Linked DNA regions of Homo sapiens. The protein of the gene in region 1 purifies or fractionates together with the protein of each later gene. This does not show direct contact. Each region holds a gene or a part of one and is shown on either strand. Other genes may lie near its edges.

Evidence for each region.
Region 2: the proteins of SYT3 (region 1) and MADD purify together in Homo sapiens (affinity purification with mass spectrometry; 2 studies listed by BioGRID and IntAct, with this or other methods). This does not show direct contact.

Annotation. Positions count from the first base shown.
Region 1 is NC_000019.10:50,629,882-50,633,381, reverse strand, and holds part of SYT3 (synaptotagmin-3), read left to right. Parts: intron 1-570; coding exon 571-1,096; intron 1,097-3,210; coding exon 3,211-3,500. UniProt on the Homo sapiens protein: Ca(2+) sensor involved in Ca(2+)-dependent exocytosis of secretory vesicles through Ca(2+) and phospholipid binding to the C2 domain.
Region 2 is NC_000011.10:47,322,133-47,325,632, forward strand, and holds part of MADD (MAP kinase-activating death domain protein), read left to right. Parts: intron 1-1,538; coding exon 1,539-1,703; intron 1,704-2,132; coding exon 2,133-2,205; intron 2,206-2,338; coding exon 2,339-2,445; intron 2,446-3,129; exon of another isoform or gene 3,130-3,201; intron 3,202-3,500. UniProt on the Homo sapiens protein: Guanyl-nucleotide exchange factor that regulates small GTPases of the Rab family. Converts GDP-bound inactive form of RAB27A and RAB27B to the GTP-bound active forms.

The DNA.
Region 1 (3,500 bases):
TCTCAGAACTGTCATTTATTACTTGTAAAACCTTAAACAAATCACTGAATCTCTCTGTGTCTCAGTTTCCTCATCTTTAAAATGGTCATATAGAACTACTGGGCTGGGCACAGTGGCCACATCTGTAATCACAGCACTTTGGGAGGCCAAGGTGGGAAGATTGCTTGAGGCCAGGAGTTCGAGCCAGCCTGGGCAACATAGCAAGACCTCATCTCTACAGAAAAATTTAAAAGTTAGCCAGGTGTGATAGCACATACCTGTAGTTCCAGCTTCTTGGGAGGCTGAGGTAAGAGGATTGCTTGAGCCCAAGAGTTCGAGGGTGCAGTGAGCTGTGATTATGCCACTGCACTCCAGCCTGAGTAACAGAGATTCCATCTCTTTAAAAAAATACAATACTTAACCTTGTAGAGTTGTAGAACATAAATTAAGTAATACATGTAAAGTGCCTGGCACTTGCAATTGCATGGACAATTGCATGGCAAATATGAAGGGTTAACTCTTTGGGGACAGCAGAGGGAGGATGTACTGTGACCCCATCCTGACCCCTACCTCTGTCCTCGTTCTCTCCAGACATCTCCGTGAGCCTGCTGTCGGTCATCGTGACATTCTGTGGCATTGTCCTTCTGGGTGTCTCTCTCTTCGTGTCCTGGAAGTTGTGCTGGGTGCCCTGGCGGGACAAGGGAGGCTCGGCAGTGGGCGGTGGCCCCCTGCGCAAAGACCTAGGCCCTGGTGTCGGGCTGGCAGGCCTGGTAGGCGGAGGCGGGCACCACCTGGCGGCTGGCCTGGGTGGCCATCCTCTGCTGGGCGGCCCACACCACCATGCCCATGCCGCCCACCATCCACCCTTTGCTGAGCTGCTGGAGCCAGGCAGCCTGGGGGGTTCTGACACCCCTGAGCCCTCCTACTTGGACATGGACTCGTATCCAGAGGCTGCAGCAGCAGCAGTGGCCGCTGGGGTCAAACCGAGCCAAACATCCCCTGAGCTGCCCTCTGAGGGGGGAGCAGGCTCTGGGTTGCTCCTGCTGCCCCCCAGTGGTGGGGGCTTGCCCAGTGCCCAGTCACATCAGCAGGTCACAAGCCTGGCACCCACTACCAGGTGAGAGAGGATACTGGGTTGGGGGTCCACTCTGAACTTCTGCTCCTCCTCTGTGTCTCTTTCCTATCTATAGCTCTTATGAGTTCGGGATTTGGAGGGGAATCGGGGTATTGACTCCTGGATCTTAGGGAAAGAGGAGGCTGGGGCCCTAGACTCCTGGATCTGAGGGAGGTTGGGGCTGTGGGGTCTAGACCCCTTGGACCAGAAGAAGTAGGGGACTGGGGGCCTGAATTCCTGGGTCCAGAGGGAGGAGACTGGGGGCAGGACTTAGGACAGGAAAGTAGAGGAGAATAAGGTTGGATCCCCAAGTCCCCTGTGGCACAAGGCAGTTCACCCCCTTTCACCCTAAGCCAGGATTGGTAGTGGGACCTGGAGTTCCTTCATTCATTATTTCTCAATATACATGTAAATGTATATTGAGCACTGATATAAACTAGGCCTGAGAGGGGTGTTAGGAAAACACCAGACTCTGCCCTCCTGTCACTCACAGCGCAGGGGAGGCGACCCCCAGACTGGCTGTCCTGGTGTAGCCAGGTTGGTGAGACAGGAAAGCGACTCAGGGAACCGCAACTGGGAGAAGGCTGGGAGCTTCCTGGAGGTGGAGATGTCTCAGCTGAGACCTGCAGGCTGAGGGAGAGTTGGGAAGGCAAAGAGGCAGGGCTGTGACCTGGGCATTCCAGGTGAAAGGAGAGGCCCAGGCAAAGACAAGAGGAGAACGAGATCCTAGTGCATTGTGAGGACAGCCCACACCAAGGGGACAGCCAGGGCACCAAGCCTTAGTCACCAAGGCATGAGAATAAGTTTGAAAAACGGAAAACTTCAGGCTGGGCGCAGTGGCTCATGCCTGTAATCCCAGCACTTTGGGAGGCCGAAGTGGGCAGATCACTTGAGGTCAGGAGTTCGAGACCAGCCTGGCCAATATGGTGAAACCCCATCTCTACTAAAAATACAAAAACAAACAAACAAAAATAGCCGGGCATGGTTGTGTGTGTCTGTAATCCCAGCTACTCGGGAGGCTGAGACGGGAGAATCTCTTGAACCTGGGAGCCAAGATTGCACCACTGTACTCCAGCCTGGGCAGCAGAGTGAGACTCCATCTCAAAAAAAAAAAAAAAAAAGAAAGAAAGAAAAAAGAAAAAGAAAACTTCAGAGATGTGACTACAGACACCAGACCACATGGGGCTTTGAGTGCCCGCCTGAGGGTCTGGGACTTTGTCCTGAGGGCACTGAGGAGCCATGGGAGGGCTGTGAGCAGGGGAGGGGCAGGCTCAGCTCTGGGTGTAGAAGGAACCCTCTGGGGCCATATGGGAGTGGGCTGGAGGGAGACACTGGAGGCTGAGAGTCCAGGAGAGGACAAGGCCTGAGCTGTGACCAGGACAGTGGGGATAGAGAGGAGAGACAGCCGGGGAGATTAAGAGAAGGGCAGAAGAGCGTTCAAAGAAGGTCTGCCAGGGGTCCATGGAGAAGCATCCTGGGTCACCAGCTTGAGGTCCAAAAGAGGTTACTGGAAGCTGGTTTATGCACAGGTCTGGGCTGGAGCTAGCTTTGAAATGGGGAGAATGAGGCTGGGTGTGGTGGCTCACACCTGTAATCCCAGCACTTTGGGAGGCCGAGGCGGGCAGATCATCTGAGGTCAGGAGTTTAAGACCAGCCTGACCAACATGGTGAAACCCCATCTCTGCTAAAAATATAAAAATTAGCCGGATATGGTGGTGCATGCCTGTAATCCCAGTTACTCGGGAGGCTGAGGCAGGATAATCACTTGAACCTGGGAGGCAGAGTTTGCAGTGGGCCGAGATCGCGCCTTTGCACTCCAGCCTGGGTGACAAGAGCAAAACTTCGTCTCAAAAGAAAAGGAAAGAAGGAAGGAAGGAAAGAAGGGAGGGAGGGAGGGAGGGAGGGAGAGAAGGAATGCCCCCCAGATACCAATGGGGAATCTGAGGCTCAGAGAGCACAGTGGCTTCCTCAAGCTCACACAGTGAGCAAAGGAGGGGACTTGTGGCCACCTGGCTGGGGGATGGGGGGAAAGGCAGGGAGGAGTCTCCCAGGTCTCTGCATGCAGTCGAAGATCAGAGCCACTGACCTCACCTTGGTCTCCCCCCAACCCCCTACAGGTACCCAGCCCTGCCCCGACCCCTCACCCAGCAGACTCTGACCTCCCAGCCGGACCCCAGCAGTGAGGAGCGGCCACCTGCCCTGCCCTTACCCCTGCCTGGAGGCGAGGAAAAAGCCAAACTCATTGGGCAGATTAAGCCAGAGCTGTACCAGGGGACTGGCCCTGGTGGCCGGCGGAGCGGTGGGGGCCCAGGCTCTGGAGAGGCAGGCACAGGGGCACCCTGTGGCCGTATCAGCTTCGCCCTGCGGTACCTCTATGGCTCGGACCAGCTGGTGGTGAGGATCCTGC
Region 2 (3,500 bases), on another chromosome or scaffold:
TGTAGGAAGTTATTACTGTTACTATCCCCATCTTACCTGTGAGGAATTGTGGACACAGATGAACTTGCTCAGGGTGGCACAGCTCAGTAATGGCAGAGCTGGAATCTAAACTCAGGCTGACTTTAGACCTGTGCCCTTCACCATTGTGCTGTAATGTCTCCCGTAACATTTGAAGCCTTAAGAACGGATAACTGGCTGCGCATGGTGGCTCACGTCTGTAATCCCAGCACTTTGGGAGGCCGAGGCGGGCGGATCATGAAGTCAGGAGATCAAGACTATCCTTGCTAACACGGTGAAACCCCGTCTCTACTTAAAAAAATATATAAAAAATTAGCCGGGCATGGTGGTGGGTGCCTGTAGTCCCAGCTACTCGAGAGGCTGAGGCAGGAGAATGGCGTGAACCTGGGAGGCGGAGCTTGCAGTGAGACGGGATTGCGCCACTGCACTCCAGCCTGGGCGACAGAGCGAGATCCGTCTCAAAAAGAAGAACAGATAACTTCACCTGAAAGAGAATGTTGAACAAGAAGGTGTCAAAGATATTTGCTTTTTAATTTATATCATCCTGTATTGTATCATTTTTATGTAATAAGCATTGTTCATGTGTCACTTGTGTAATTAATTTTTAAAAATATTTTTATAGAAAAAGGGTAGACCCAGGATTAGAAAGTGCATCAGCTCCATTTTTCTCCTTGGTTAAGTCTGTCATGATCTCCTACCTTTGTGTTTGTCAACAAAGATGATTCCTGAGCTTGTAAGATGGAGGCATGAGATCTCCTCCAAATACTTTAAGTCCGTAGAGCACATAAGAGGTAATAAATAACTGGGCCGGGCGCGGTGGCTCACGCCTGTAATCCCAGCACTTTGGGAGGCCAAGACGGGTGTATCACTTGAGGTCAGGAGTTCGAGACCAGCCTGGCCAACATGGTGAAACCCTGTCTCTACTAAAAATACAAAAATTAGCTGAGCATGGTGATGTGTGCCTGTAATCTCAGCTACTCGGGAGGCTGAGGCAGGAGAATCATTTTAACCCACAAGGCAGAGGTTGCAGTGAGTCGAGATTGCACCACTGCACTCCAGCCTGGGCAACAGAGTGGGACTCCATCTCAAAAAAAAAAAAAAAAAATTATAGCCAATGTGATGGTGTGCACCTGTAGTCCCTGCTACTTTGGGGGCTGAGGCAGGAAGAACCTGGCTGGTCGAGGCTGCAGTGAGCTGAGATGGCGCCACTGCAGTCAAGCCTGGGGTACAAAGTGAGACCCTGTCTCAAAAAAAAAAAAAAGAGGTAATAAATAACTGATTGATTTGTGCCTCCTCCCTTATACATCGGTTCCTTCTAATGACTCCATCTCTTCCAACAATCCTTGTAGCAGGCAGCATGTCAGTAGTTCTGTTTTGTGTCTTCACCTAGGGAAACCATGAGCGTAAGGCAGAAAACCTGACCATGGGGATGCCCCAGGACCACCTTTCCCTGTAGGAAACAGTCTAGGGAGAGGCTGTCAGAGACAGGAACCACTGAGCCGCTTTGTGCACTTCTCCAGGTGTGCGATGACTGTGTGGTGTTGCGTAGTAACATCGGAACAGTGTATGAGCGCTGGTGGTACGAGAAGCTCATCAACATGACCTACTGTCCCAAGACGAAGGTGTTGTGCTTGTGGCGTAGAAATGGCTCTGAGACCCAGCTCAACAAGTTCTATACTAAAAAGGTACGCAGGATCTGTGTTTGGGTTGGGGCTAGTAGGCATTGAAGACCAAATAGTGAATTTCTCTTTGGGAAGTTAAAATTCCAAAACACACATCTGGAGCCACACTTCTGTCTCCAGCTGTTGGGTGGAGTACCTAAAGCTGTCTCTGTCAAGCCAACTAGGCCTAATAGTAGTCACAATCGGTATTAACCAACCATATCTAGCATTCCTACACATCTGTACCCATGCCTTCTTTAAAGCCATACTATTCATATGCTCCGGATCTATCATTCATAACCTCAACAATGAATAAGACATCCGAAAAATAGGAGGACTACTTAAAATTTTACCCCTCACTTCAACCTCCAGCCTTCAGTGGCCATTATAGAGCAGTGGGTGGGGAACCCTGGACAGCCCTCATGATGGGACCACTCTCCCCCTGTGCCACAGTGTCGGGAGCTGTACTACTGTGTGAAGGACAGCATGGAGCGCGCTGCCGCCCGACAGCAAAGCATCAAACCCGGTGAGGAGAGTTTTTCCTGAGAGTGTCTTCCCTGTTTCTACCAGTCCTTCTGAGTGTCAGGGGCCTGGCAGGGAAGTCAGGGGTGGGATTCCCCACCTCACCAGTGAGCTGATAGCCCCCTCCCTCACCACAGGACCTGAATTGGGTGGCGAGTTCCCTGTGCAGGACCTGAAGACTGGTGAGGGTGGCCTGCTGCAGGTGACCCTGGAAGGGATCAACCTCAAATTCATGCACAATCAGGTAGGTGCGAGCGGCAGCACGAGGCTCCCTGTCGTTCCATCTGTAAGAAGGACCAATGTCCAAGCCCCCAGTACTTCCCCAGCAAGCATGAGAGAGGGCCCTCTGGAGCTAGAGGGAGAACTGGAGCAGCTGGACCCAGGAAAGAAACCCCAGGGGAGGGCACAGTGACGTTGGCGACCACCTGGCGCTGTGAAGGTGCACCAGGGAGCCCGTGGGGGAGGCTGGGCAGGAGCGAGGCCAGGTGGCCACGCTGCCCCATCCGTTGGACTCCACACAGTGTGAGTGGGAGCGTCTCACTTGGCCCTTCCCCTGCAGTGTCTCTGCCTTCCTCTATTCCCAGGATATGCTTCTGCTTGGTGGTTTTGCTTTGAGAGTCTAGACTGGCCGATCTCCTTGTGTCTTTCTGGTGTGCGTGCAGCTTGCGTGTGCGTGCGTGCGTGCCTGCGTGCTTGTGTGTAAGTAGCTTGTATCTGTCCTCTCTGGAGTGTGTTTATTTGCCTTTTTCTTCTGCGGATTCTTCTTCCTGTTCTTTTCCTTCCTCTGAGTGTTCCCACTCTGTCCCCTGCTCCACAGGCCCCATTCCCTTTCTTTTGATTGGGGAGCACTTGTGGATACATCTTTCCCTCATTGTAATTCCACCATAGGAGCTGACTTTTTTTTTTCTCTCTTGGTCTTTTAACACAGTGTTACCTTTTTCTCTCAGTGGACATTCCTTAAGCTAATTCCTTTCTGAGGCCAGCGCATCATCCCAGGTCCGTTCACAGCTCTGACTCCTCACACAAGTGCCTTCCCTCCTCTTTCCCTGATGTCCGGGTTCCTCTCCCTGAGGCTCTGAGCCAGACCCAAATGTGTGAAGCCCCACAGACCCTGGCCAGGCCGCAGACCCTCAGGGGAGGTGGATGCCTGACTGACGTGGCTGTCTCCCTCCCTCCGCTAGCCGTTGTAGCTCTCTTTCAGGAACGTAGCTGGGCAGCTTTGGTTTAACAGGAAATGGCTGCGCAGGCTGCCAGCAGCCCCTTAGTATATTTTCAATTTAGGACTTAGGGCAGTAGCCA